2 separate regions of the Homo sapiens genome follow, and region 2 is linked to region 1. Evidence: fine-mapped QTL for protein levels in blood plasma. Region 1 holds a variant in brackets. A gene starts in the other region. All regions are shown on their reverse strands.

Region 1 (16,116 bases):
ATATTTATTGAATACTTACTATGATTCAGGCATAATGCAATGATGAGTAAGATAACATAGGCAACTATACTAGACGCTACAGCATTATGGATGTAAAGATTAATAGCGGAAAATCCCATATTTTCCAGAAGTTCAGTCTAGCTGGGAAAATCACTGATTAAAAAATAGTATAGTAAACACTCTACCAAAGGAAGCGCAAAAACAATGAGAGCTCAGTGGAGGGAGAGATGGAAATATTTGGAACAGAAATAAAATGGATAAGCATTTAATGTCAGAAAATAAAGTGGACTTTGATGGCCACATTAGGTATCAGAAGTCTGCAGGGCTATCATGCATATTGTGTACTGCACAATTCCAGAAGGTACTCTTCAAAGAAACTAAGATATAAATGGTGGGCCCTAGAATTGTGCAGTGTACAACTTCCAAATCCATACCCTGAGGCCCTACCAGACGCTTTGAAGGCACTGATTTTGACTAATGTTATTTTATATTGAATTGTAAGTGAGGGAGGTGATGGCTGAAAACATGATCTTCTCAGAGCTAAGGACTTCTAGAGGAATATGTTTGGCCCAATGAAATAGATGGCAAAGGAAATAATTTTAATTGTACTGGTAATTTTTATCATGAAGGTATAGATGGATTCAGTTTCATGGGACCTGAAGCTTATATACATAATGAGTATTTTAAAAGAAAAAAGACAATTAGAAATAGAAAATTCTTTATAAAACTGAATATTTATTTGGTATAAGAATAGATATTACAACAAATTAAAAATTACAAAAAGTCAACAGAAGCACTCAATGTGGGGACCTAACCACATTTTCTTGACACTCAGTTTTCTAGTAAATGCCTCAGGTTCCTACTACAAGCTCTTGCACCTCTCCTCCCAATGTTTGAAGGTAGTGGGATGGAAGTGTGGGGGAGTTAATGCCTCTGGGAGCCTGCCACCCCTAGGTGGTGAAGGATGAATATTTTGTTGGAGGATAAACACCTGTTGCATGGGACAACTGTCAAACATTTCCCACGCAAACTCCTAGAGCTCCCCACTGTGATTGGGCTCCAGATACCACAGCAACAACTTGCCCAATAACACATTCTAGAAGTTATCTTCCTTTCTGTCATTTTCTCACCCTCCTGCTAGTATTTTGTGGTCAGGACTAGCTACAGGATTTTCAGGATCCAGTGCAAATTAAAATTGTGAGGCCCTTGTTGAAAAATTATTAAGAATTTCGAAATGGTAATAGCAGAGCATTAAACTAAGTGCAAAACCCTTTTGAGCACAGGCCTCGGGCAACTGCATAGGTTGCTTGTTTGTGGAGCCGTTCTTGGTGCTGGTATCCTGTCTCAAACTGTTTGGATTCTCCCTGTCTCAGGATTTGCTTCTGGGGAAACTCAACCTAATATACAGGGATAGCCCTAAAATCTCCCAGATGAAGACAGAGATTGTGTATTAGTCCATTTTCACGCTGCTGATAAAGACATACCCAAGACTGGGAAGAAAAAGAGGTTTAATTTGACTTACAGTTCCACATGGCTGGGGAGGCCTCAGAATCACGGCAGGAGGTGAAAGGCACCTCTTACATGGCAGCAGCAAGAGAAGATGAGAAAGAAGAAAAAGTGGAAACCCCTGATAAACTCATCGGATCTCGTGAGACTTACTTACTATCACGAGAATAGCACGGGAAAGACCAGCCCCCATGATTCAATTTACCTTCCCCTGGGTCCCTCTGACAACATATGGGAATTCTGGGAGCTACCATTCAAGTTGAGATTTGGGTGTGGACACAGCCAGACCATATCATACTGTATTTTTATCAGTTAAATGCCTGACCCATATTTATAATATTTTTTCTTTACTTTTGACTGTATATTCTCTGATTGTTTCTACATGTAATAGTTTTGTAATATTTTATTTGGAGAAAAATGGAAAGATAATTCAGTCCTTCCTTTAAATCAATGCACAAGGTATTTTTATTTTACATAACTAATAGCTTAGAAAAGCTTCAGCCTCGGAGCCCATTAATAAGTCTTGTAAATTTTTAGAATTGTTATCCAATTTTGAAAAATTTCTGAAGTTTTCTTCTTACATGAGCAATCAGGTTTCAGGGCATTTCTATGTACTGACAAATTCTAAACTCTCTTTTTAATAGCTTTCTACTGTTGCTTTAGCAAATTACCATAAATGTAATGACTTAAAACCATGCACATTTATTACCTTTTAGTCCCGTGGGTCAGAAGTCTAACACAGATATTACTGGAGGGAAATCAGTGTTCTAGCAGGGCTGCATTCCTTTCTGGAAGCTCTAGAGGAGAAGCCATTTCTTTGCATTTCCCAGATTCTAGAGGCCACCCACATTCTTTGACTAGAGATCCTGTTCCTCTGTCTTTAAAGTCCACAGTGTTCTCTTTCATGTATCCTTTCATGACCTACTCTTCTGTCTCTGTTTTCCATTCTTAAGACTCATGTGATTAGATTAGGTCCATCCAGATAATCCAGGATAATCTCCCCATTTTAAGGCTATAACCTTAATAACATCTGCAAGGGTCTTTTGGTGATGTAAGAGAACATATTCACAGGTTCTGGGCATTACAAAATGAGCACCTTTTTGGGGTAGCCAATTTAGCCTACCACGCTCTTTTCACTGATGACATTTATTAACAAGTTTGTCCTTGTTGCCTTGTTTAGTGGTGTATTATGAATTTATTGCTTTGTCAGTGTCAGTTAAACCAGGAGGGAACATAAATATTTTTCCAATGTGTTTATAGGATTCACTCCTCTTTATTAATTGGACTACCAAACTATCTGAGAGCCTATTGATTACTCTATTAAAAATGTTTTCTTAGTGAATTTACTACCTTAGGTATGGTCTGATTGTTTTTTTTTTCTGGCAATTTACTTCTTGAGGTCAGAATAATTTGTACCAATTCTTGTCACTCTTATGAATTGCTGTTATTTCATATTCAATTTTTTATGTGAACTTTGTATCCATTATTTAATATCTAAATTAAAAATGACAAAGGTACCTTTATATATATATTATCATCAGGACTCTGTCATTTCTTACTTATTTAATTGACATGAAATGTCTCTCCATTTGCAGATAAAGAGACACATTACCAACTCACCTTCCACAAAGCTATCCTGCAAATGCTGCAGCCATAGCAATGCCATTGACATGAAGGGAAATATAATGAGAGGGAAGAGTTTCCTAAAGGATTCCAGTTAAAATATCTTATTTTTGCCAATTTTACAAAAAATATACAAGTATGCGAATGCACTGTTAGAGCTTCTGCCAGAAACGTGGAACGGGCCTAAGGCTTAAACTTCTTTAGCGTAATGTAAATATGTCTTCATTGCTGTGGACTGCAGTGGAAGGGAACTTAGCACAGCCTGGAAGTGTCCAGAGAGACTTGCCAGAGGAAGCATTTGCTTAAGCCAAGTCTTAAAGGACAAATGGAATTTAGCCAATCACAGACAGAAAGGAAGGGTCTTCTGGGCAGATGGCATGATTTGCTTAAGCACAGAAGTGTGAGTGGAGTTGTTCAATGTGGTGGAGGAGAAGGAGAGGAGGGAGACAAGGAGATTCAGCTGATGGGAGAGGCAAGAGGAAGAGCATGGGTTTTATCCCATAGAAGAGTTATAAACAGAGATCACAGAGAGCTGGATCTATGTTTTAGAGTCATTATGGTTCTGCCTAAAAGAGAATTGGATGGGGGAGCAGGAGTGACTTCTTTAATCTGTTTTTTTTCAAAGCAAATTTATAACCACTATCCCTGTGGACCAGCACTATCCGGCAGCACTTGCTGGGATGATGGAAATGTTCTACGGCTGCACTGTCCAATGTGGCACACCCCTACATGTGGCCATTGAGCATTCAAAATGTGACAGGTGTGGCCAAAGAACTAAATCTTCAGTTTTATTTAATTTCAAATTTTAAAAATTTAAACAGTCACACACATGGCTAGTGGCTAGCACATGGGACAGCACAGCTTTAGCTCTTCAAAGAGAAAGTCTATGGGATATTCAGGTTCATCAGTCTGAACTTGATAAATTTTAATTTTCGAGGAATCATTCTGGGTTCTAGGAAGAATTTAAGCAGTACAAGACATAGATGGACCATAAATTAATGGAATTTATGATCAGGACAATGCTTTGTGTCAAAAGAGCTGAGTGAATACTAACAAAAAGAATTCAGAATATGTAAACAAAAAATGGCTATGAGAATAAATATTCAGTGCAACATTAGTTGTACACAACCTAAACATGCAAATATTAAGATTGATTAAGAAAATGATAGCCTCCATCCATGCAATGGAATAGTATAAATAATGCAAAAGCATATTTATTTCAGTGGAAAGATGCTTATGATATAGTAGGTAGCAGAAAACCATATTATAAAATCGTTATGAAAACATTTTTAATGAAAATATGCTTAGAAATATGTTAGGTTGTATTAATACATAAAATACAAATAGAGTGGTTATCTCTGAGTTGAAGGCAATTGCTTCATTTTTCTATCTTCCTTTTTTTGCCATCTCTATAGTATCATATTTTTTTTTGCAATGAGAGCGTATTGCTTTTATAACAAGAAAAATAAGAAAACAATAAAAATAAGTTATTTTTTAATTCTTAAAGGAGTGAAGTAGACATCAAGATCTCAAGATCTATTGCAGTTGAGAGAAAAGATATCTCAGTAGGTGAGGGATGGGGTAGGCAGGGAAGTCCTGTCACCAAAGTTGAGCTTTGGAAGGGAAGGGGGAGGTCAGGGTGGAGAAGGGAAGAAACAGTTCTTGAGCCCCTACTGTTTGGTGAATGTTCACATGTGTTATCTTCTTTAATCCCCACCATGACCAGATAAGGTAGGTACCAACATCATGCTGTTTTACAAATGTGAAAAATCAAGACTCTAATAAATGAAATAACCATGTAAGTAACATTAGTAATCTTGAAGACAGAAGACTGGAGGTTTGCTTACTGGAGGTTGCCAGCTTTTTCTACTGGATGAGTTTCATAATATGCTGGCTCTCATTCGTATATTTATTTGTGTAACGACTGTGTGTAATGTTTGTGTAATGACTAGACTGGAAGCTCTGTGGGAGCAGGGACTGTGTGTGTTTAGTTCACTACTGTGTCTACAGCCCTTAGCAAAGAACTTGGCACACACCAGGCTCTCAATTAATATTGCTCACTGTATTCAAATATATCAGGGGTCATTAATTCCTGTACTTTTAACAGATTGTTTAGATTGACAGATTTAGATAGCTTGGAGGGACTCAAATGAGATAATCAGCATGAGAAGACTTTGTAAACTGTAGAATCATGTACCCATGCCAGGGGTTTTTATTTTTGAAAACTTTCCTTTACTGGCTTTATTCAAGCCAAAAAAAAATATTTTTTGGAACTACTGATGATACTCCTGCAAGAAGATTTAATCTTGAAATTCTTGGAAAGTAGCACAAAAGCATTTGGTCCTAAACTCATCTTATGAGGTTTTTTGATTATTAGTCAGAACATCAGGGCTTATTGATATTTTTAGAAATATTCCTGAACCATCTCTTATTTTAACCAAATTACGAGATAAATCGAGACATGTGAAGTAAGATCGATGTGTTATTAGTTGCATGATCATTTATCATCAGCTCCTAACACAAATATTAGGAAATATGGCCTTTTCTATTTCTGTGGTCACACTAAAGGAGGCCGATTGTCTTCTTGCGGAACTGAGTGAGGGTAGGAGAATAATGGGATACAGCCTGTGTACTCACAGGATGCTGCTTATCACATTGCTAATCACATTCTGAGAAACTTTATTTTTATACGTTTTCCTTGCTGTAGTTATGAGAACACCGTCTTTGTGCCAAGTGAAGTTGGCTTGAAAGTGACTTTGTCACTTTTCAACTGTTATGACTTCAGACGAGCTTCTTGCCTGCTGCCAGCCTCAGTTTCTCCAATTTGTAAAATGGAAACAGTTATGCCAACCTTGCAGAGCTATTAGGAGAGATTAAATGAAATGATGTGTACAGCTTGCCTGACAGAGTGCTTGGCTGAAAGTACTTAATACAAATTACCTTCTTTGTCTGTTTTCCACATTTGTGGTTGACAACCCTTTCCAAACAGACACTTACTCTTCCGAATATCAGTGTATAAAATGATTTTATGGAAGCACAGTGATTTTATGGGTTAAAAAGTGACATCTATTCCTGGGGCTGGAATCTTCAGACCACAGGTTAGATTCTGTAGTTTAGTGCAGCAGAAAGAACCCAATGAAGTTTCACAGAACCATAGACTACTAGAGCAATGGGGGACATTGCTCCGGAAAACTGAGGCATGATGAAGAGAAGTGACCTACCCACAGTCTTATAGCTAGTGGCATGTGTGGTGGGTGGGATTCACAGCACGTTTAAGGAAGAAGCTCTACAAATTGTGTGGGATGTTATCTGATCCTTAGGAAAGCTGCCTAGGATGGGATGAGAGCTCTCGGTTAAATGTGTTAGCCTCTGGGACAGTAAATCCCTTCTGAATCTTAGGTGCTTAGCTTAGTTGATCAGTATGTTTATGTACTATCTCCCCATATGTGTACAGGGAATTTAAAATCAAACTCTTGAGTGTTAGGAAGGGTAATCTTTCCAAAACCAAAGAGGTGACGCAGGCAGCCACACTGGCTGCATTTCTGAGAATTCTGGGTTGCTGTCCATCTCCATGAAACCATTCTGAAGCCAATGGACAGGTAGGCCACTTTTGTTCAAACTAAACAATTAACTCATGTGTTTATTTGATTCATTTATTAATTCCTTCACCAAAAGCTCATTGAGTCCAGGCAATTAATCAGACACTTTAAGTATGGAAGTTATAGAAATGCACAAAACACATCCTTTTTCTGTGGAGATCATGGTCTGCTCTTTTCTTAATCCTAATTCCTTCCTTGAAACTCTTCTAGGGTCCGGCCTGAACTTAGCCTGAGACTCCCCAGACTGAGGCAACACAGCTTACCACCTGTTGAGGGCTGATCTAGCCATAGTGCTGGAAGACAGGGTGACAGTTCTATAGCTCCTTCCTTCATTTTCATGTTACCTGGATGTGACAATTTCTCCATAGGTGCTGTTTCTATTCTCATCCCTACTTCTAATCCTGTGTCTGCATCACCTAAGCAGGGCTTAGCAACTCTCTTCACTCCACCTCTCTCCCTTCCCACATCAGCTCCATTCTTAGTGAGTTTTAAATTTTTTAGTTGAATATTTTATATTGGAGATGGAAG[G/A]GAAAGTTAGGTTATATCACACATCACCCAAAATACTTCATAAACACTTTTAGTTGACCATGCTCTTTTCCATAACATCTCTTCCCCTGGCTACATACTGCCTATGTCTCTCTTCCCCTTCGGTCTCAATTATCTTCCCCAGACACCATATCTCTCCAAGTTCATTAATGTTAGTTCTTTTTCTTCCATCTTAGCTACAATTTGCATCCTCACCACCTTTGACAATGTAACACCCTTCTTAGAAGGAAGAAGGGAGTTGGAAATAAAATATACTTTTTTCCTGGCTAAAAGTAAGTGTATCTTCCTGTTCTACAGATGGGTTATCTCAGACAGGGAAAGCAAAATCACTTTCAAAAGTTTGAGCCTCTACTTCACAGCCTTTCTTTTCTGCCCCCAGAAGGATTAGTTATACATCATGCTTGCTGAAAGCGTAATATATTGAAAATCAGAAGAGTGCCATTGGGTGTCTGTTTAGAATATAGATGTCCGAGTCAGGAACACTCTGAATTCAACTCTTGGGCCTGCCACTCACTAGCTGGGAGATCTTGGGCAAGAGATATCCCTTGGCTAAACTTCAGTTTGCTTATCTGTAAAATGAAAACAATAGTACCTTTGAGACATGGGAGCTATGAGGATTAAATGAGGTAATGAAAAGGCTCTTAGTTGGGTACAAGTCATTGATGATCCAGGTTAGCAGTCGTAATTAGGAATCATGTGGCCAAATAGTAACATCAGCAACATTGTAAAAATGTTTCTGGGCAAGGTGCATTGGCTCACACCTGCAATCCCAGCATTTTGGAAGGTCAAGCTTGAGCCTAGGAGTTCAAGACCAGCCTGGGCAACATGGTGAAACCCCATCTCTACAAAAAACACAAAAATTAGCCAGGTGTGTTGGCGCATACCTATATTTCCAGCTACTTTGGAGGCTGAGGTGGGAGAATCACCTGAGCCCGAGAGGTCGAGGCTGCAGTGAGCCCTGACCATGTCACTGCACTGCAGCCTGGGTGATGGAGTGAGACCCTATCTCCAAAGAAAAAAAAAAGAATATTTCTGTTTTTGTAGCAGCAAATTAAGTCCTGCTACATGCCAAATATTGTGAAAATACGAATTGTCTGTTTTGCAAATCTTTTAGTACTCTTTAATGAGGTTGCATTGTAAAGCATTTGTTGAAAAGTTTGTTGAAGGTTTATTATAACACACGGTTATACCACATAGATTCTTAATCTAGAACGAATGACTTACATGAATGCAGTGATCTGTGGTGAAATGTTACCTAGGAATGAATGATGTGATGGGATGTGAAGCACCTGTGCTTCAGTTGACCTCATACAATGTCTGGCACTTTTGGGTATGGCATATCATTTTTGAAGTTACATTACTACAAAAGAATAAATGGTGTATGTGATTGTGTGTGTGTGTGTGTGTGTGTGTGTGTAGTTTTTTTTTCTTTTACCAACATGCTCTCAACTCTGGTGGTTTGTGCTTTTGCATCTATACTCTTAGGAAAAATGCACGGTCTCCCTTGACCTTTGTCAACTTCTGAAACTTTGTCAGTTGTGAAACTGTGGTATTATGTATGTGATGGGATGGAAAAAATGTTGCACTGTAGTAATCCAGGAGACAAGCGGTGGGACCTGGGTAAATAGGTGCATTTCCCATGAGTCTGTGCATGGCAAAGAGAGTCATATATTGGGAACACAGGCTGTGGAAGAGGACAGCAGGAAGTACAGGTCTGAAAAGATGACAGAGTTCTGTGAGGTAAGAAATAATATTCCTCTGCTATGAACCCTCAAATCTTCAGTGTAGTTTCTAAAATCACCAGATGTTTGGCTTAAGTGGATTCTTTTGATCTTGGAAATTGGCAGAGAGCATAATTAATATGGTGGGCATGGAAATGAGAACGGAGATTTGGGGAAACCATAAGGAAGAGATTGGATTCAAATATATGTAAATATGGGAGGGGTGGAGGAGGTGAGTTAGGATAACTTACATCTCAGAGATTCTAAGGAACATCTCAATTACTCTTTTTATAGTATTTTCACTTTACATAGCGATTTCATGTTCTGCCTCGAAAATAAAGTGTGAGATCCACATAACAGGATTTTTTCTTTCATATTGTAAATAAGTAAACTGAGGTTCAGAAAATGTAAAAGATATATACAAGATCACATAAGTGGTAAGGAGCAGAGCCAGGTCTAACGATAAACCAAATCATGGTATTTTATGGATGTAATATCTTCTAGTCCAACTGACTCCTAGATGCTTAAATTTCCTCAATAATCATATCGACTCCTTGCCTCCTCTGGTTCGTTGACAAACTGCCTTTCTAGTAGCATCTTTCTGCTTCTGTGGACTGGTGCTTTTCTAGTGTGTGTGTGTGTGTGTGTGTGTGTGTGTGTGTGTGTGTGTGTGTGTGTTTAATGTTCTGACTTCATGCATAGGTCTCAATTTCTGGTAGGTCCTTACCATACATGTGTCCAAGGCCGTATCTTCTATCCCTACATTTGCATAAAATCTAAATGCCTGGCCATTAGGGTTAAGATTAAATTTTGGTGCTCCCTTGCACTTCCAAGCCTCACATGCTCCAATATTCAGGCACAGTTTCCTTTTCATGTTAACACCCCAAGATTTCCCTTTAGTGTTACAATTTTGGATAGGAGATCCAGGCATAAGGGAGGGGTAATAGTTGTCTAAAGACATGAGGGAGGTGAGGAGGAAGAGGTGAAGAGCATTATAGGCAGAAGAAACAGCAAGATCAGATTCTTGAGTGGCAAGTATGAATGCCGTATTGCAGAAATAGTAAGGAGGTCAGCAGAGCTGGGGCAGAGCGTGGAAGTAGGAGTAGTTAAGATCAGACAAGTATTTGGGGTTGATGCTAGACTGTGGAAAGACTTGTAGACTATTAAAATGACTTTTTAAAAAGTCTTAAGTGACATGGAAAACTGTTGGAGGGTTCTGAGAAAAGAAGTGAAATAAATGGACTTGTTTTTATAATAGAATTGCTCTGGTTGCATTGTGGTGAATGAATTGGAGGAGAACAAGAGTAGAAACAGCTTATACTATTAACTAGAAGGTTATTTAAATAATCTGATTGGAGCTAATAATGGTTGCAAATAAGGTGATAATAATGGAGGTGGTCAAAAGTGGGCAGATTCTGGATTTATTTTGAAGGTGGAGCTACATGATTTCCTAATAGAATAAATGTGAAATCTCAGAGACGGAGAAGAGCTAAAGTTGACTTCATGGCCTGAGAAATAGAAATAATTTAATGGAATAAAGAAGACTGTGGGAGCAACAGATTTAGGAGAGATAGGAGAAGCTCAAATTTGGATTTAAGTTTGAAATGCTTATTAACATCCTAGTCGAGGAGGCAGTTGGTATGAGAATCTATAAATCAGAGGTGACAACCAGGCTTGCAATTTAGATCTATGTATAGATGATATATCAAGCCACACAACTGGATGAGATAATCAAGGGAGTGTGTCTAGATACAGAAAATAAGAGATCTAGAGAATGAGCTCCAGGGCATTTTATCATTTGAAGTTTGTGCTGAGGTTTCTCCGTAATGATGTGAGCAGCTCCATAGACCTCATCCCCAGCAAAACTTGTTGAAAATTATATAAGATTCTCCCAAGCATTTAAAGTCTCTGGAAATGGTTCTAAGAGCATATAGTAAATGAAAAAAAAACATTTATTTAAGAAAATATAATAAACTCAATAAGAACGATGAGAGTCTTTGCTAGTTGAGCCAAGACCTGCATTCTCTCTCCCCCATTCCAGCTCAGCAAGATGTACCATATATTCCAGACTGGTATAGCCTAAAACCCAGGGCCCTCACTCCTGCTAATTCCAAGTTGGAGGACTATATTCCCTTGGGGGGATAGGACATAAGCATTTCTCCTTCTGCTCCCAGCTACCTGTTGCTGAGGCCAGGTTCTGGGCAAGTACAGCTGGGAGCCGGGGGGTTCCCTTGTTCCATCCAGCCTCAACTATGGAATGGAGGTTTTACCTTGGGAGTAGTGCTGTTGAGAAAACTTGGGCCCCTTGCTCAAGCTTGGGGACAAGGATTCCATGTGGAGAAGGGCAAGCCAAAGGGACCTGGGGCTGATGGCCCCTCCCCAACTCACTCAGCACTCAGCTCCTAAAGTGGAGTTGTCACTCAGAGAGAAGCACGCCATCATCCCCACCCCTAGTACCAGGGCTTGGCTCAGAAATTTATACCAGGGGGAAAACAGTCTATAGAAGCAGAGAGTTCCAAATCTCTGACCAAAGGAACTTGCTTCATTTGCAACAGATTGCAGAGAAGTTCAAGCCCAAGGACACTTTCAAAAATAGTGAAAGTTGTGGTGAAAGGTAATTGGGAGATTAATAGATTCGTGGGTGTTATAGGCTCGCTAGTTTACCAGAGAGGGAAACAGGGAAGAAATAGCTGGGAAGAACCCTCCTGTGGTCAGAACAAACCTTAAACACTGACATTCAGAACTATACCTTCAAAGGAGCCTGAATTTGATTTGATTGGCTTATGAATCAATTTATGCCTTTTTTCTTGTAACTAATTTTTTATAAAACCATATAAAACAGTATGAATATGTTTTTTGTCTCTATAATACATAGAAATTTAATATTCTTGCCAATAAATTTAAAAAGAAATGTCTTTAAAAGACATGAAATTATATGAAGTAATAATATAATTATTACGAAGTATTGCTGAATTGGTAATGTTTACATATGTAATATGCATAGCAATAAAACTACACAAAGGAGAAGAAGGTAATAAACGTATATAGGAGCAATAGTTCTATATCTCATTGGAATTAAATTAGTATAAATCTGAAGCTGTTTTTGGTAAGTTAAGGTATATCTTTGGTAAGTTAAGGTATATCTATGGTAAGCCCTAGAGCAACCACTAAAAATAGTAGAAAATATCATTAAAGAAATGAAAATGCTACATTAGAAAATATTAAGTTAATGCAAAAGAAAGTAGTAAAGGAGGAATAGAGGAACAAAAAAGACATGAGACATATAGAAAAAAGGAAGTAAAATGGCAGACATAAATCCAACTACATCAGTATCATAAAATGTGAATAAAATAAATGATCCAATTAAAAGCAAACACTGTGAGACTGGATAAAAAAAGTTCCCAGTATATGCTGTCTATAGGAGATACACTTTAGATTTAAAGACAAGAATAAATTGAAGGCTGGATGCAGTGGCTTGTGCCTATAATTCCAGCACTTTGGGAGCCTGGACAGGAGGATTGCTTGAACCTAGGAGTTTGAGACCAGCTGGGCAACATAGGGTGACCCTGTCTCTACCAAAAAAAAAAAAAAAAAAAAAAAAAAAAAAATTAGCCAGGCATGGTGGCACACTTGCTTGTAGTCCCAGCTACTCAGGGGCTGAGGTGGGAGGATTGCTTGAGCCCAGGTGGTTGAGACTGCAGTGGGCCAAGATCACACCATCGCACTTCTGCCTGGGCAACAGAATAGACTCTTTCTGAAAAATCAAAAGAATAAATAAAATAAATGGAAAGTAAATGGATGAAAAAAGATATGTCATGTACACAGTGATGACAAGAGAGCTGGTGTGTTCATCAGACAAAATAGACCTTAAAACAAAAAACTTTACTGGAGATATAGAGGGATATTTTATGATAATCAAAAGTTCAATTCATCAGAAAGATGTAACCATTATAAACATATATGTATCTAACAAGAAAGCAGCAAAATACATGAAGTATAATCTGACAGAAATGAAAGAAGAAATAGATAATTAAAAACAATAGTTGGGGACTTCCATATCACACTTTTGGTAATGGATGGAACAAGTAGCAGAAGATCAACAAAGAAAGTGAAGAATTTAACAACATGATAAACCCGCTAGACTGCACAGAATCCTGTAGAGCACTCCACCTAACAACAGCAGAATATATCTTCTTTTCAAGTGAAGGATGCATCCTATGGCAGGCTATAAAACAAACCTCAATAAATTTGAAAGTATAGAAATAATAAAACCTGTCTTCCTTAACTGTAATGAAATGAAATTAGAAATCAATAAAAGATTTTCTTATATTTGAGAAACTCACAAATTTATAGAAACCAAACAACAGAGTAGCTAGTTCTTTAAACACATTAACAGAATTAATAAATATTTAGCTAAATTGACCAAAAAATTAGTGAAAATTCAAATTACTAGAATTAGAAATAAAAGAGAAACCACCGTCAGAGTGAACAGGCAACCTACAGAATGGGAGAAAATTTTTGCAACCTACTCATCTGACAAAGGGCTAATATCCAGAATCTACAATGTACTCAAACAAATTTACAAGAAAAAAACAAACAACCCCATCAAAAAGTGGGCAAAGGATATGAACAGACACTTCTCAAAAGAAGACATTTATGCAGCCAAAAAACACATGAAAAAATGCTCACCATCACTGGCCATCAGAGAAATGCAAATCAAAACCACAATGAGATACCATCTCACACCAGTTAGAATGGCAATCATTAAAAAGTCAGGAAACAACAGGTGCTGGAGAGGATGTGGAGAAATAGGAACACTTTTACACTGTTGGTGGGACTGTAAACTAGTTCAACCATTGTGGAAGTTGGTGTGGCGATTCCTCAGGGATCTAGAACTAGAAATACCATTTGACCCAGCCATTCCATTGCTGGGTATATACCCAAAGGACTATAAATCATGCTGCTATAAAGACACATGCACATCTATGTTTATTGCGGCACTACTCACAATAGCAAAGACTTGGAACCAAGCCAAATGTCCAACAATGATAGGCTGGATTAAGAAAATGTGGCACATATACACCATGGAATACTATGCAGCCATAAAAAATGATGAGTTCATGTCCTTTGTAGGGACATGGATGAAGCTGGAAACCATCATTCTCAGCAAACTATCGCAAGGACAAAAAACCAAACACCGCATGTTCTCACTTATAGGTGGGAATTGAACAATGAGAACACATGAACACAGGGAGGGGAACATCACACACTGCAGACTGTTGTGGGGTTGGGGGAGAGGGGAGGGATAGCATTAGAAGATATACCTAATGCTAAATGATGAGTTAATGGGTGCAGCACACCAATATGGCACATGTATACATAGGTAACAAACCTGCACGTTGTGCACATGTAACCTAAAACTTAAAGTATATAAAAAAAAGAAATAAAAGAGAAGATATTACTTTTGACCTTCTAGAAATAAAAAAGTATTGTATTCCAATAAATTATACAATTTGCATGAAATTGACAAATTCCTAGAAAGTCACAACCTACTGAAACTGACCCAAGAAGATATAGATAAAACAAAGAAAACCCCAAACAACTCAATTAAAAAATAAGCAAAGGACTTGAATAGACATTTCTTTAAAAAAAGATCTACAAATAGCCAATAAGCACATGATAAGATGTTTAATATTGTTATTTGATATGGTTTAGCTGTGTCCCCACCCAAATCTCATCTTGAATTGTAGTTTCCATAATCCCCACATATCGTGGGAGGGACCTGATGGAGGTAATTGAATCATGGGGCAGTTACCTCCATGCTGATGTTCTCATGATAGTGAGTGAGTTATCATGAGATTTGGTGGTTTTATAAGGGGCTTTTCCCCCTTGCTTGGCTCTTGTGTCTCCTGCTGCCTTGTGTAGAGGGATGTGTTTGCTTCCCCCTCTGCTATGATTGTAAGTTTCCTGAGGCCTCCCCAACCATGCAGAACTGTGAGTCAAGTAAACTTCTTTCCTTTTTAAATTACCCAGTCTTGGACAGTTATTTATAGCAGTGTGAGAATGGGCTAATACAGTAAGTTGGTACCAGGAGTAGAGGGGCACTCCTGTAAAGATACCTGAAAATGTGGAAGCGACTTTGGAACTGGGTAACAGGCAGAGGTTGGAACAGTTTGGAGGGCTCAGAAGAAGACAGGAAAATGTGGAAAAGTTTGGAACTTCCTAGAGACTTGTTGAATGGCTTTGACCAAAATGCTGATAGTGATATGGACAATGAAGTCCAGGCTGAGATGGTCTCAGTTCCCAACAAGTTCCTCATCTCATCTCACCTCATCTTAGCCCAGGCTCAGATGGAGATGAGAAACTTGTTGGGGACTGGAATAAAGGTGACACTTGTGATGCTTTAGAAAAGAGACTGGTGGCATTTTGACCTTGCCCTAGAGATCTGTGGAACTTTGAACTTGAGATAGATGATTTAGGATATCTGGAGGAAGAAATTTCTAAGTGGGAAAGCATTCAAGAGGAAGCAGAGCTTAAAAGTTTGGAAAATTTGCCACCTGATAATGTGATAGAAAAGAAAACCAGATTTTCTGGGGAGAAATTCAAGCCAGCTGAGGAAATTTGCATAGGTAATGGGGAGCCAAATGTTCATCACCAAGACAATGGGGAAAATGTCTCCAGGGCATGTCAGAGACCTTCACAGCAGCCCCTCCCATTACAGGCCACAGAGGGAAAAGTGGTTTACTGGGCCATGCCCAGGGCCACCCTGCTCTGTGCAGCCTTGGGGCATGGTGTCCTGCATCCCAGCTGTTTCACCTCCAGCTGTGGCTAAAAGGAGCCGAGGTACATACAGTTTGGGCCATTACTTCAGAGAGTGCAAGCCCCAAGCCTTGGTGGCTTCCATGTGGTGTTGAGCCTGTGGGTGCACAGAAGTAAAGAATTGAGGTTTGGGAACTTCCTCCTAGATTTCAGAAGATGTATGGAAATGCCTGGATGTCCAGGCAGAAGTCTGCTGCAGTGGTGGAGCCCTCACAGAGAACCTCTGCTAGGGCAGTGTGGAAGGGAAATGTGAGGTTGGAGCTCCCACACAGAGTCCCCAGTGGGGCACTGCCTAGTGGAGC
Region 2 (8,000 bases), not on the chromosome of region 1:
AGGTGGATATGAGGGTGATGGGTGGGGAAATGGGAGGCACCCGAGATGGGGACAGCAGAATAAAGACAGCAGCAGTGCTGGGGGGCAGGGGGATGAGCAAAGGCAGGCCCAAGACCCCCAGCCCACTGCACCCTGGCCTCCCACAAGCCCCCTCGCAGCCGCCCAGCCACACTCACTGTGCACTCAGCCGTCGATACACTGGTCTGTTAGGGAGAAAGTCCGTCAGAACAGGCAGCTGTGTGTGTGTGTGCGTGTATGAGTGTGTGTGTGTGATCCCTGACTGCCAGGTCCTCTGCACTGCCCCTGGGCAGCCCCTGCCCCACCTGGCCCAGCTGCAGAAGATATGGGGGTTCCTTTCAGAGATGGGGCAACAGAGGGGTGGATGGCAGGGCAGGGGATGTGGGAGAAAGGCCTGGGGAGGGGCTGCCCTGAGTGAGGCCCAGCTCCCAGGCTCCTCGGGCACCCAGGTCTCCTGCCTGTTTACCAGTCCAGGCAGTCTCTCAGCCTGGGGGAGGCCAGTGGCTCTCTGAATGGCCTGGCTGGAGCCTCCTGCCCAAGCCAGGCTCCCTGGAGTCAAGGACAGCTCCCAAGTCAGTGGTGAGCAAGTCCCCAGGGGAGAGAGGACAGCCAGGACAGCAAAACCCAGGGTGACGAGGCCTGGGAGGGTCGGGGGAGATGGCCCAGAACAAGGGGGCCTGGGAGGGTGGCCAGAGGTGTCAGGCCAGTGAGACTGAGAAATGGATACTCAGGCCTGGGCCTGAAATCCTTGTCTGGGCAGACCCGGGCTAAACTGCCAGGAAAGAGCACTTGCGGCCTGGGTCCCTGGGAGTCCCATAGACCCTGGGGTGGGGCACAGTCTTCCTGGGCCCAGAGTGGCTTCCAAGGAGCTCCTGGACCATCCACTGCTCCAGTGACTGAAGCTGAGGACGGAGTCCCTCCTCTCCCTGATCCCTGGTAGGGAAGCATCCTGCCTGAACAGTCCCCATGTCCCCGTCCCCTCATCCAGACTGGCCATTACCGATTGGGACAGGGAAGACGATGTGGTTTTCAGGGAGGCCCAGAGATTTGGAGAAGCGGATGAAGTTCTCCTTTAGTTCCGAAGTCAGCTCCTTGGTTCTCCCTGTGACCAAGATGGCCAGTGAGTGGCTGGCAGACACCACATAAATATCGTTGAATGAGTAGATGAGGCCTCAGATCCCTTCCTCATGGGGGACCGGCCTCCCCTCCCACTAAGTGTGATCAGGAGCCAGTCCCCGAGGGGATGGGAGAGGACCCACCGTAGAGGGTGATCTTGAAGTACTCCCTGTTTTGAGAAACTTTCTTGAAGAACACCATAGCATGCTGGTTGTAGTTGGTGCTCACCACTCGGACGAGGTAACTCGTTAATCCAGGGTAACCTGCAGGCGTGGACGGTGAGGGGTCAGCCCTGCCCTGGATGGGAGGAGGGAGCTGTCCCCTCCCTCCCCAGCCCATCAACGTGGGCTTCTCCCCATACAACACATCTGTGTGGAGGGGCAGGAAGGTCTGTGCCCCTACCCAGCTCCCCGGAGCCCCAACTCAGTGCCCCACCTCACTCAAGACTCACTCTTAATGTTGCCCAGCGTGAACTCGCCGGGCTGGCAACCTGGAACAAAAGTCCTGATCCAGTAGTCACACTTCTTTTTCCTTGGGAGGGAGAGATGGGTGGGTGAGAGGGGAGACAACCCAGGCTTGGGCCTCCTGTGCTGGACAAGGTGGGGCCAGGGCAGCAGCAGGGTTCTGTTGCTCTCAGTCCGGCCCAACCCGTGACAGCTCATCCCCCACTACCTGGAGGGGCCCTACCCCACCCAGCCGAGATGGGCCTGGGCCTTCTCCCTGAGCTGACACCAGGCTGTCCCTCCTGGCCTGCCTGGGGCCCCTGGACCCCACTCAGACCCTCCAGCACCCGATGTCCTTCTTTCCTTTGGCTGCCTCCCTGGGTGGCTTTCACCCCCCCCGCCACCCAACACACAGAAACCCTGCATTTCTCCCCTGCACTCAGCTTGCTGCTTCCCTTCCTATACCCTCTCCCGGGGATCCACCTCGGTACTTCCAGTCTGCTCCATGCCAGCCGTTCCCCTAGCTCTCGGGTCAAACCTGACCCCATCCTTGAGTCCTCCCACTTCCCATCCCCTGGCACCCCAGGGCTGAGCTCCCCAACCTGTCTGTATTCTGCTCCTTGCTCCACAAATGCCCCAATCCCAATCCACTCAGCTGCCAGAGTCAGAAACCCACTGGGGGCGGCTGATCCCTGGCTCCCTGCCTCTTCACCCTGCGCCTGTTCTCTCACACCTGTGACGGCCCCGCTTCACTTTCGCTGGTCTCCCGACCCCCTAGGCTGCACCCCACCAAGTCTCCCCACCCTGCGGCCCAAGAGCCCTGCTCTAAGCCACTCCGCAGCAGATCCGCTGGGGCGGGGCCTGAGGACCGTGCTAGGTGCTAGCGTGGCCACCTGCCCCTCCAGGCTGCTCAGCAGCTCTGCTCAGGGTGACCCTGCGATGGCTTGCTCCTTCCTGAAGGGGGGGCTCTCTCTGACTCCAGCCCCTGCCGGGAACACCCCACATTTCCTTTTGAAGCAGGTTGGCTCTTTTAAGGCCACCTCCCTGGAAGCCTTCCATGAAGGCACTGGGTGGGGTTCCAGGCTGGATCCAGTGTCCCCTCCTCCCGCTCCCAGGCACCCCTCCTCTCTCCGTCTTGTTTTCTAACGACTGTGCATGTCCATCCCCACCACTGTCTGTGTGTCTGCATGGAAATGTGCTATAAACGTTGCTCTAAGGAACAGAGGAAGGATGAACACAGATGAATTCCGGGCAGAACAGCGAGGTGAACGACAGGATCCCTCAGCTTTGGCCATCCCTTGCCTGTGACGTCAGTCTGACTCTCACACCCCCAGGAGATGTCGGCCCTCACCTAAACAGGACGGAGGTGACATTGTAGCTCTTGTCTTCTTTCAGCTCATAGATGGTGGCATACATCTTTTGCGGGTCTTTGTCTTCTCTGAGAATTGCATTCCCTGCCAGGCCTACCACATACCACTTCCCCTGGAACTGCAAGGGACTGATAAGAGGCACAACCCAGGAATGGCCCTAGGAGCCACCCCTCCAGCTCTGTCCCTGTGGCACCTCTGGGCCGCCCAGCTTGGAACCATGAGCCCCTCTAGCTGGGCAGCAGGGCCCAGGCTGGGCCTGCACTGGTGAAGGGGCAGGAGCAGGAGGCCATCAGTCCAGAAGGGAGTCCTGGGGGAAGAGGCGGTTCTGAGTCTGGCAGGGAGGAGGGTGACCTCCTCACTGGAGGAGGCATGTGGCTGGTGGGCCTTCCTGAGCCTCAGTTTCCTCATCTGTGCAGGGGGACTAAAAGTGCTCCCACCTTCTTTGGACAATGGGGGTTATGGGAGAGGGGATGTGGACCTGGGGGAGTCTGTTCAGGCTGAGAGGGGGTGGGGATGGGGGGAAGGGGCATGGTTTCCACCAGGGGACCCTGGTGGCACAGAGTGAGCTGAAACCTGGACCCTGGACTCCTAGAGTCCTGCCCAACGCTCTTCCTGAGTCTCTTCACCTCTCCTCCCCTCTGCTCCCACTCTTCCCCAGGCCCTGCCTGCAGGTGCCCCTCTTGGCCCCTTACTTGGTTGTCCTGGAAGTTCTGCTGCAGAGGGACCTTGCTCAGAGGTGGGGCTGGGATCAGGTCTGAGGTGGAGTCCTGGGCCTGGGCATGCAGAGCCCCCAACAGGGCTAGGCCCAGCCACAGGAGACCTAGGGGCATGATTTCAGGGCCGAGGAAGCAGGCGCTGTGGTGGCTGCTGGGCCTGGCAGGGGTGGAAGAGGAGGTGGCGAGTGAGAGGCTCACCTGGGTGGCCCTATTTATGGGATCTAGGGTGGGTTGATTCATTCTTTGCCAAGGCCAGGAATGTGAGGCAATTGCCAGCAACTCCTGCGGAAACACTTGGCAAGATTTCTGCACCTGGTCAGGATTGGGCAAGACAGAGGGACGGGGAGAGTGAGGGACATTCCCGGAGTGCTGCACCTCTGGCAGGGACAACGACTCCCTCTGTGCCTTCCTTGTGCTGTTTCTTTCTTCTGATTGCCCTGTATGTGGGCCGGTGGCCTGTGAGCCGGAAGAGCTGTCATCTCTGACCCCCCTGCTCAGCTGGATCCCAGGGTGGGGTATGTGCCCTGTGGTCCCCTCCCCACACCCACAGAAAGGAAAGAATGAATGCCTCCTTCCAACAGATCATGTGCTGTTTCCTGGTTCTTTTAAGGGTCAGGGAAGGGTGGGGTGGCTGACAGTGGACAAGGAAAAACAAGGCGTCTGCTCTGAACTCATGGAGCCCAGAATCATGGCCCTCCCAGGAGCCCCAGTCCAGGACCTGCATGTGCTCCAGGGGCCTTGAGACAGCCCCTTGCCCCTCTCCTTGCCCCATTTGCAGGAGGGGACCCCAGTGGACCCCTGAGGGACCCTTCCTCTCCTGTGAGTGCAGTGGGAAGAGACCCCACACAGGGCACATGGGTTGAGTGCTGAGGCTACAGTCCCTGTCCTGGGTGAGTTGGGCTGATGTGTGGGGGCGTGAAGGCGCCACACTGCTGCTCTGGACACCTGTTGCTTTGGGTCACTGACAGTGCAAGGATCTGGCCTTATCCTTGAGGTCACTGAGACCATCCCCCTGACTCTAGTCACAGCCTTTTTCCATTGAACCCAGCAGCCCAGGCCAGGGGTTCTGGAACTGTCACCGAGATGGCTGGTCCCAGCCTTGTCCAGCAGGGAAGCAGTTATCTCAACGGGGGCCTGGCTGGCATCCTCGGGAGGCAGCGATGGATCGTAGGCCCTGTGCAGTGTCCGCAGAGATGGCTCACCCATGAGGGCTGAGGCCGTCCTGGATGCCTGACCTGAGGCTGGACTGAGGGTTCGCTGGTTTTAGAGCTTTCAATGGGACTAACGGGGACCTCACTGGCTCTGCCTACGTGCTGCTTGGGATCCCCAATCTGGGCTTGGGGGCAGCAGGGCCTCAGGGAAGGGGCTCTGGGAGTCCTGAGCTGGGGTTAGTCTAGAGAGGCACCCACTGGATCCCTGCCCCCTCAGGCCCTGTCCTGCCTGCCCGATTGGATGATGAAAGGGCAGGAAGCAAAGATGAGTAAAACTGCAGGGGAACGATGTTGCACCAAAGCCTTCCCTTTCTAGAGGTAGCCAGTGGCTACTCGCTCCCTCCGAACCCCCTCTTCCCCTCATGACCCTGTTCCCAGGAACTCCACCTCTGCTACTGTCTTTGACCTTAAAAAGTATCCTCTGCCAGGCCGGGTGCGGTGGCTCACATCTGTAATCCCAGCATTTGGGAGGCTGAGGCGGGTGGATCACGAGGTCAGGAGTTCGAGACCAGTCTGGCCAACACGGTGAAACCCCATCTCTACTAAAAATACAAAAATTAGCAGGGCATGGTGGCAGGCGCCTGTAATCCCAGCTACTCGGGAGGCTGAGGCAGAAGAACAGCTTGAACCTGGGAGGCGGAGGTTGCAGTGAGCCGAGATCACGCCTTTGCACTTTAGCCTGGAACAGAGCGATATTCTGTCTTAAAAAAAAAAAAAAAAAGGTATCCTCGGCTGGGCGCAGTGGCTCTCGCCTGTAACTCCAGCACTTTGGGAGACTGAGGCGGGTGGATAACCTGAGGTCAGGTGTTCAAGACCAGCCTGACCAACATGGTGAAACCCTGTCTCTAGTAAAAATACAAAGATTAGTTGGGCATGGTGGCGCATGCCTGTAATCCCAACTACTCGGGAAGCTGAGGCAGAAGAATTGCTTGAACCTGGGAGGCGGAGGTTGCAGTGAGCCAAGGTTGCGCCATTGCACTCCAGCCTGGGCGACAGAGGGAGACTCCATCTCGGGGAAAAAAAAAATGTATCCTCAGGGACTAGCCTGGCCAATATGGCAAAACCCCGTCTCTACTAAAAATACAAAAATTAGCCAGGTGGGGTGATGCATGCCTATGATCCCAACTACTCAGGAGGCTGAGGCAGGAGAATGGCTTGAACCCGGGAGGCGGAGGCTGCAGTGAGCCAAGATCGCACCACTGCACTCCAGCCTGGGAGACAGAGTGAGACCCTGTCTGAAAAAAGAAAAAAAAAACCACGTATCCTCGGGGAGGCTGAGGTGGGAGGATCACTTGGGCCCAGGAAGCCGAGGCTGCAGTGAGCTATGATTGTGCCACTGCACTCCAGCCTGGATGATAGAGTGACCTAAATCTAAAAAGTACCCTCTAGTCTACGGTGACTGCTTCACGTAGCTGAGACCAGCGGGTGGAGCCCCAGAGAATTTGAAGTTGGGGGTGAGGCAGTGTCATGGATCTCTGAGGACCCAGGACTCCAGGGTATGAATGTGGTGGGTGAGCAGGGCACTGGGTCCACAGTGGGAAGACACCAGAGCCAGGTGCAGAAGGGGAGATAGTCCCGCTTGGGGGTCCCCCAGGCTGGCTTGAAGCCTGGCTCCTCCGCATGCATGCAGATCTCTGCCTAGCTCCCACACAAATCAGGCGCTCCTCTGTAGAGAGGGCAGCTCTGCGCTTCTGTGAGGTCATGCATGGACAGCACCGGGCCCCAGGGTGTCCCTACACAAGGCTGAGTTTCTGATCAAACCCATGCAGGGCTCATTCCTCTCTCTGCACCAGCTCCAGACCTGTCTCCTACCCACTGGCCTTGGCTCTCTTCAGAGTCTAGCAGGGCTGCAGGGAGGGGGTCAGCTCTACATAGACCCACCACACAAGCTTCAGGACTCAGCACTAGGAAGGTTGGGTAAGGACTGTGGTGTAGACCTCCCATTCAGACTTGACCGACTCCAAGGGCTCCAGGGTCAACAGGACACTGGGGCCCCATTCCTCACCCACCCCCTTTCCACTGGGCCCCATTCATTGGGCCCTAGCCAATGAGGGTACACAAGTGTTCACACTGCTCAGCGCTTGGGGGAGTCCCTGGACCCCGGGGCTCTTGGGACAATCTCCACGACACGTGTGGCACTGTGCATGGCATGACAGGCACCCACCTGCCTCCCCTCGGCCCCTCCTATGGTTTCCACCGTGGCCCCTGGACTGGGCCTGCTTTCTCTCAAGGAGCTGCAGGTGCCTCTAGTGAGCCCTCAACGAGCCACACAGAAGCAATGGGGCCAAGCCCCTCCTGAGAGGAGCTGGGCTGGGCTCCCAAGTCCTGCTGTGCAGGTCGGCTTAGCAACAGCAGGAGCTTAAAGACAGGTCCCTGCCTGGGTTTTCCGTGGCCAGAGACCAGAAGTACTCCGGCTGCTCCCGACCTCCCCTCGCAGTCTCTGGCAGGCAGCTGTCCCCACTCTCCACGCCCAAGAGTGGGTGCTCCCTGGAGACTGCAGCAGCCTGTCCTCCCATGGAGAGGCCCAGGTCTCATCCATGCATGAAGGCAGCAAGATGCTTCCTGGCGGTCCTTACATCTCAGGAATCCAGTCTGACTCCCCATTCTGGTTTCCGGATCTTGTGAGTAGTGTTCAGCGTGGCCATGAATGGTTAACCCTCTGACGTGTTTGAAGGCTGGGCAGGAGGTGACTGGCTAGGCTTCTAGGAGCCAGGTACCACACCTGGAAGGAGTCTACAGTCAAGATGCCCCCAGGAGGCCCAGTCACAGATGCAGGAAGTCTTGGTGTCTGCAGATCAGCTCTCCTTGGTCACGGCAGGTCCGGGCTGGGCACCCGACTCTCAAACACCCAGGAACGGGAGGGGCTGTTTAGTGTGAGGAGCTTGCCCTGCCAGGGTCTTGGGCTGAGTCTCCTGTTTCCAGAAACAGTTTTCCAACCCCCATCCTCTCTCATGCCAAGGCTCGCCAAGGGGCCTTGAGGTCCTCCTGCCCCTTCTACCTGACAGGGACCCTGCCCGCCTGTGAAAATCCCCTCCCAACCCTCCCCCAAGTACACCCACTGGATTCCTCCCTCTGGTGAACCCCTGGGGTCCACCAGACAGGGGGAAGCGGGCCCTGCTGCTTGAG

Which allele goes with the higher level. Alleles are on the strand shown, and positions count from the first base shown. The strength of an association depends on the size of the effect and on how common the allele is.
For the plasma level of the protein whose gene starts at base 3,850 in region 2, G is the high allele of the variant in region 1 and A is the other (weak association).

The links. A credible set is the group of variants that fine-mapping cannot tell apart. PIP is the chance, under the fine-mapping model, that this variant and not a neighbour inherited with it causes the effect. The UK Biobank Pharma Proteomics Project read protein levels with antibody pairs (Olink). The fine-mapping took linkage between variants from a reference panel, not from the people measured, so its PIPs are less certain.
Region 2: LCN2 starts here. The variant in region 1 is the best candidate, but not a certain one, in a credible set for the plasma level of the LCN2 protein (UK Biobank, PIP 0.59).

The regions. Positions count from the first base shown.
Region 1 is chr8:129,603,711-129,619,826 of GRCh38, reverse strand. All of the region lies in intron 1 of CCDC26 (CCDC26 long non-coding RNA), which reads left to right. Among named protein-coding and RNA genes, the nearest start is that of CCDC26, 68 kb to the left of the region's middle. RefSeq lists silencers at 15,893-16,081, 15,918-16,116. The variant G/A (reference allele first, on the strand shown) is at 7,257.
Region 2 is chr9:128,145,303-128,153,302 of GRCh38, reverse strand. It overlaps LCN2 (lipocalin 2), which reads right to left and starts at 3,850. Exons shown (of 7, transcript NM_005564.5): 1 at 3,640-3,850; 2 at 2,929-3,065; 3 at 1,586-1,665; 4 at 1,278-1,397; 5 at 1,019-1,120; 6 at 177-203. The coding sequence starts at 3,777. The coding sequence ends at 184. RefSeq lists a silencer at 2,451-2,500 and an enhancer at 6,630-7,129.